Linked DNA regions of Homo sapiens. The protein of the gene in region 1 binds, or shares a complex with, the protein of each later gene. Each region holds a gene or a part of one and is shown in the gene's direction. Other genes may lie near its edges. The genes, in order: RGL2 and KRAS.

Evidence for each region.
Region 2: the proteins of RGL2 (region 1) and KRAS are in contact, whole or in part, in a crystal structure (PDB 8B69), measured with the Homo sapiens proteins. Residues at the interface, in NP_004752.1 of Homo sapiens: Ile651, Arg653, Glu660, Asp661, Gly662, Ser663, Val664, Tyr665, Lys666, Ser667, Ile668, Leu669, Lys685, Lys686, Asn688, Arg689; in NP_001356715.1 of Homo sapiens: Ile24, Gln25, His27, Val29, Glu31, Asp33, Pro34, Thr35, Ile36, Glu37, Asp38, Ser39, Tyr40, Arg41, Lys42, Tyr64.

The regions. Positions count from the first base shown.
Region 1 is NC_000006.12:33,293,485-33,296,203, reverse strand, and holds part of RGL2 (ral guanine nucleotide dissociation stimulator-like 2), read left to right. Parts: coding exon 1-176; intron 177-444; coding exon 445-696; intron 697-781; coding exon 782-885; intron 886-992; coding exon 993-1,077; intron 1,078-1,158; coding exon 1,159-1,227; intron 1,228-1,441; coding exon 1,442-1,516; intron 1,517-2,137; coding exon 2,138-2,170; intron 2,171-2,268; coding exon of another isoform or gene 2,269-2,287; coding exon 2,288-2,409; intron 2,410-2,504; coding exon 2,505-2,600; intron 2,601-2,679; coding exon 2,680-2,719. UniProt on the Homo sapiens protein: Probable guanine nucleotide exchange factor. Putative effector of Ras and/or Rap. Associates with the GTP-bound form of Rap 1A and H-Ras in vitro.
Region 2 is NC_000012.12:25,205,672-25,209,496, reverse strand, and holds part of KRAS (GTPase KRas), read left to right. Parts: 3' UTR 1-3,825. UniProt on the Homo sapiens protein: Ras proteins bind GDP/GTP and possess intrinsic GTPase activity. Plays an important role in the regulation of cell proliferation.

The DNA.
Region 1 (2,719 bases):
AGGGTGTTGGGGGGGGCAGCGCTGACCTCATCCGCAATCTCCGGTCCCGGGTGGACCCCCAGGCCCCCGACCTTCCTAAGCCCCTGGCCCTCCCCGGCGATCCCCCTGCTGACCCCACGGATGTCCTGGTGTTCCTCGCTGACCACTTGGCCGAACAGCTGACCCTGCTAGATGCGGTGAGACCCTGACCTCTGGCCCCTATGCCCCCTGACCCCTTACTAACCTCTCCTTGACTCCAGATCCTTTCCTTGCTTCCACCCCTTCCTGATCCAGCTCCTAGCCTCCTCCACCTACCATTTTGATTCTCCCCTTTTCCCTTTGGTCGTTACCCTTCAAACCCTGTGCCCCTCTGGTTCCTTGGCCACCTGAGATCCTCAGATCCCTGATATTGGAAGGCTGACCTCACTTGACTATGAACTTTAACCTCTGACCTCTACCCTGCAGGAACTTTTTCTCAATTTGATCCCCTCTCAGTGCCTGGGAGGCCTGTGGGGTCACAGAGACCGGCCAGGACATTCTCACCTCTGCCCATCTGTCCGAGCTACTGTCACACAGTTTAACAAGGTGGCAGGGGCAGTGGTTAGTTCTGTCCTGGGGGCTACTTCCACTGGAGAGGGACCTGGGGAGGTGACCATACGGCCACTCCGTCCCCCACAGAGGGCCCGGCTCCTGGAGAAGTGGATCCGCGTGGCAGAGGTGAGAGAGAAGATTGCCCTACGGTTTGTGGCCATGGAATGGAGAGGCCTCCCATAGCCTTAGCTCTCTTCTTTGACCCCCACAGGAGTGCCGGCTGCTCCGAAACTTCTCTTCAGTTTATGCCGTGGTGTCAGCCCTGCAGTCCAGCCCCATCCACAGGCTTCGGGCAGCCTGGGGGGAAGCAACCAGGTGCGGAGGCTGAGGCATTGGACTGGGGTGGGGGTTCCTCAGAAGGCGGGGAAGAGGGGGTGACAGAGCCAGGCCTGTCCTCAGGGCCACTTTTCTCCCTTCCCCAGGGACAGCCTCAGAGTCTTTTCCAGCCTCTGCCAGATTTTCTCCGAGGAGGATAATTATTCCCAGAGTCGGGAGCTGCTCGTGCAGGTGAGAGCCTGGTTTGTGGCATTCCCACCTCTCCTTGTTCCCTACTGCTCCCCCATGTCTCTTTTATTTTGTCACCACCAGGAGGTGAAGCTGCAGTCTCCTCTGGAGCCACACTCCAAGAAGGCCCCGAGGTCTGGCTCCCGGGGTGGGGTGAGTGACTAGCGGGGTGGTGGGCGTGGGGGTGGTGATTATGAAGGGGTGAGGAGTATGTTTTGGGGGAGCAGCCTGAAGGATGGGTAAGGGAGGCACAGAGGGGTGAGGAGAATGAAATCTGTTCTCTGAGGCAATGAGGAGGGCAAGTGCGGAGGGATGGAGGGCCCTCACGTCAATGGCAGGCACTTCTGACCCTGACCCCTGACTTCAGGGTGTGGTCCCATACCTTGGCACCTTCCTGAAGGACCTTGTGATGCTGGATGCAGCCTCCAAGGATGAGTTGGAGGTCAGTGGTGTGTGTGTGTGTCATTGCAATGATGTAACAAGTGGGCTGCAGGGTCGGACAGACCCCCCCGCCCCTTGCAAGGGGCTGTAAGGCACAAATAGCTGAGTGTGGGACAGAGCCAGATCTGTTTCTGTGCCAAGTCGCCTCAGTGATCTGTAAATGGGAAACTAGAAATAGCATCTACATTGATCTGTTATAAGGGTTAAATGAATTTGTATTTGTCAAGTGCTTAGAACGTGCCTGAAACGTAAGCACATCTAGGTTTTGTGATGGGCTCCTGCTCTATTGCTAGAGTTTGTTAAATAAACAAATACTGAGACCTTGGACAAGTTCCTTATCCTCTCTGGATAAGGAATCCTGTCGAATTGGATACTATCCAGTCCTCTCATCTGCAAAGCAGACTCGTTGTCTACCTGAGAAATTCAATTTAAAGGGTCAAGTGGAGTGCTTAGGCCATGATAGATTGAGGAGGAAGGCAGGGAGGGATCGAAGAGTCAGAGAGGCTGGAGGGAAGTGGTTGTGAGTTGGATGTGGCTGTGTGTGTTTAAGAGAGGGGATATTCTCTCTCTGTGGCCGGAAGGTAGGGTTGGAACTTTCACCCCATCCCCATTTTCCTCGCAGAATGGATACATCAATTTTGACAAGCGGAGGAAGGTGAGCGGAGTGTCTGGGCTGGATGCTGGACTTCCCTATCCATGTTCCAGGAAGGGGAGGGGGAAAAGTCAGGGGTCCCTGAGTTTTGGCTCCTGCAGTTTGAGGGCTCCTTCCCAGGAGTTTGCAGTCCTTTCTGAGTTGCGACGGCTCCAGAATGAATGTCGTGGCTATAACCTCCAACCTGACCATGATATCCAGAGGTGGCTACAGGGGCTCCGGCCACTGACAGAGGCTCAGAGGTGACTGGCGGGTGAGGTTGGGACTCCAGGGTTCTGGCCAGGTGTGGGGGATTGGTGTCATGTCCTGAGCTCTGCCTATTGCCCCCCTAACCCAGCCATCGTGTATCCTGTGAGGTGGAGCCACCTGGTTCCAGTGACCCTCCTGCCCCACGGGTGCTTCGGCCAACATTGGTCATCTCGCAGTGGACAGAGTGAGAGATTCACTGGCTGGGGGGTGGTTTCTTGGGACTTCCACTTTTCTCTGATCCTCCCAATCTCCTGCCACTGCAGGGTTTTGGGCTCTGTTGGGGTCCCTACCCCGCTTGTGTCC
Region 2 (3,825 bases), on another chromosome or scaffold:
CTTACCAATTGTGAATGTTGGTGTGAAACAAATTAATGAAGCTTTTGAATCATCCCTATTCTGTGTTTTATCTAGTCACATAAATGGATTAATTACTAATTTCAGTTGAGACCTTCTAATTGGTTTTTACTGAAACATTGAGGGAACACAAATTTATGGGCTTCCTGATGATGATTCTTCTAGGCATCATGTCCTATAGTTTGTCATCCCTGATGAATGTAAAGTTACACTGTTCACAAAGGTTTTGTCTCCTTTCCACTGCTATTAGTCATGGTCACTCTCCCCAAAATATTATATTTTTTCTATAAAAAGAAAAAAATGGAAAAAAATTACAAGGCAATGGAAACTATTATAAGGCCATTTCCTTTTCACATTAGATAAATTACTATAAAGACTCCTAATAGCTTTTCCTGTTAAGGCAGACCCAGTATGAAATGGGGATTATTATAGCAACCATTTTGGGGCTATATTTACATGCTACTAAATTTTTATAATAATTGAAAAGATTTTAACAAGTATAAAAAATTCTCATAGGAATTAAATGTAGTCTCCCTGTGTCAGACTGCTCTTTCATAGTATAACTTTAAATCTTTTCTTCAACTTGAGTCTTTGAAGATAGTTTTAATTCTGCTTGTGACATTAAAAGATTATTTGGGCCAGTTATAGCTTATTAGGTGTTGAAGAGACCAAGGTTGCAAGGCCAGGCCCTGTGTGAACCTTTGAGCTTTCATAGAGAGTTTCACAGCATGGACTGTGTCCCCACGGTCATCCAGTGTTGTCATGCATTGGTTAGTCAAAATGGGGAGGGACTAGGGCAGTTTGGATAGCTCAACAAGATACAATCTCACTCTGTGGTGGTCCTGCTGACAAATCAAGAGCATTGCTTTTGTTTCTTAAGAAAACAAACTCTTTTTTAAAAATTACTTTTAAATATTAACTCAAAAGTTGAGATTTTGGGGTGGTGGTGTGCCAAGACATTAATTTTTTTTTTAAACAATGAAGTGAAAAAGTTTTACAATCTCTAGGTTTGGCTAGTTCTCTTAACACTGGTTAAATTAACATTGCATAAACACTTTTCAAGTCTGATCCATATTTAATAATGCTTTAAAATAAAAATAAAAACAATCCTTTTGATAAATTTAAAATGTTACTTATTTTAAAATAAATGAAGTGAGATGGCATGGTGAGGTGAAAGTATCACTGGACTAGGAAGAAGGTGACTTAGGTTCTAGATAGGTGTCTTTTAGGACTCTGATTTTGAGGACATCACTTACTATCCATTTCTTCATGTTAAAAGAAGTCATCTCAAACTCTTAGTTTTTTTTTTTTACAACTATGTAATTTATATTCCATTTACATAAGGATACACTTATTTGTCAAGCTCAGCACAATCTGTAAATTTTTAACCTATGTTACACCATCTTCAGTGCCAGTCTTGGGCAAAATTGTGCAAGAGGTGAAGTTTATATTTGAATATCCATTCTCGTTTTAGGACTCTTCTTCCATATTAGTGTCATCTTGCCTCCCTACCTTCCACATGCCCCATGACTTGATGCAGTTTTAATACTTGTAATTCCCCTAACCATAAGATTTACTGCTGCTGTGGATATCTCCATGAAGTTTTCCCACTGAGTCACATCAGAAATGCCCTACATCTTATTTCCTCAGGGCTCAAGAGAATCTGACAGATACCATAAAGGGATTTGACCTAATCACTAATTTTCAGGTGGTGGCTGATGCTTTGAACATCTCTTTGCTGCCCAATCCATTAGCGACAGTAGGATTTTTCAAACCTGGTATGAATAGACAGAACCCTATCCAGTGGAAGGAGAATTTAATAAAGATAGTGCTGAAAGAATTCCTTAGGTAATCTATAACTAGGACTACTCCTGGTAACAGTAATACATTCCATTGTTTTAGTAACCAGAAATCTTCATGCAATGAAAAATACTTTAATTCATGAAGCTTACTTTTTTTTTTTGGTGTCAGAGTCTCGCTCTTGTCACCCAGGCTGGAATGCAGTGGCGCCATCTCAGCTCACTGCAACCTCCATCTCCCAGGTTCAAGCGATTCTCGTGCCTCGGCCTCCTGAGTAGCTGGGATTACAGGCGTGTGCCACTACACTCAACTAATTTTTGTATTTTTAGGAGAGACGGGGTTTCACCCTGTTGGCCAGGCTGGTCTCGAACTCCTGACCTCAAGTGATTCACCCACCTTGGCCTCATAAACCTGTTTTGCAGAACTCATTTATTCAGCAAATATTTATTGAGTGCCTACCAGATGCCAGTCACCACACAAGGCACTGGGTATATGGTATCCCCAAACAAGAGACATAATCCCGGTCCTTAGGTAGTGCTAGTGTGGTCTGTAATATCTTACTAAGGCCTTTGGTATACGACCCAGAGATAACACGATGCGTATTTTAGTTTTGCAAAGAAGGGGTTTGGTCTCTGTGCCAGCTCTATAATTGTTTTGCTACGATTCCACTGAAACTCTTCGATCAAGCTACTTTATGTAAATCACTTCATTGTTTTAAAGGAATAAACTTGATTATATTGTTTTTTTATTTGGCATAACTGTGATTCTTTTAGGACAATTACTGTACACATTAAGGTGTATGTCAGATATTCATATTGACCCAAATGTGTAATATTCCAGTTTTCTCTGCATAAGTAATTAAAATATACTTAAAAATTAATAGTTTTATCTGGGTACAAATAAACAGGTGCCTGAACTAGTTCACAGACAAGGAAACTTCTATGTAAAAATCACTATGATTTCTGAATTGCTATGTGAAACTACAGATCTTTGGAACACTGTTTAGGTAGGGTGTTAAGACTTACACAGTACCTCGTTTCTACACAGAGAAAGAAATGGCCATACTTCAGGAACTGCAGTGCTTATGAGGGGATATTTAGGCCTCTTGAATTTTTGATGTAGATGGGCATTTTTTTAAGGTAGTGGTTAATTACCTTTATGTGAACTTTGAATGGTTTAACAAAAGATTTGTTTTTGTAGAGATTTTAAAGGGGGAGAATTCTAGAAATAAATGTTACCTAATTATTACAGCCTTAAAGACAAAAATCCTTGTTGAAGTTTTTTTAAAAAAAGCTAAATTACATAGACTTAGGCATTAACATGTTTGTGGAAGAATATAGCAGACGTATATTGTATCATTTGAGTGAATGTTCCCAAGTAGGCATTCTAGGCTCTATTTAACTGAGTCACACTGCATAGGAATTTAGAACCTAACTTTTATAGGTTATCAAAACTGTTGTCACCATTGCACAATTTTGTCCTAATATATACATAGAAACTTTGTGGGGCATGTTAAGTTACAGTTTGCACAAGTTCATCTCATTTGTATTCCATTGATTTTTTTTTTCTTCTAAACATTTTTTCTTCAAACAGTATATAACTTTTTTTAGGGGATTTTTTTTTAGACAGCAAAAACTATCTGAAGATTTCCATTTGTCAAAAAGTAATGATTTCTTGATAATTGTGTAGTAATGTTTTTTAGAACCCAGCAGTTACCTTAAAGCTGAATTTATATTTAGTAACTTCTGTGTTAATACTGGATAGCATGAATTCTGCATTGAGAAACTGAATAGCTGTCATAAAATGAAACTTTCTTTCTAAAGAAAGATACTCACATGAGTTCTTGAAGAATAGTCATAACTAGATTAAGATCTGTGTTTTAGTTTAATAGTTTGAAGTGCCTGTTTGGGATAATGATAGGTAATTTAGATGAATTTAGGGGAAAAAAAAGTTATCTGCAGATATGTTGAGGGCCCATCTCTCCCCCCACACCCCCACAGAGCTAAC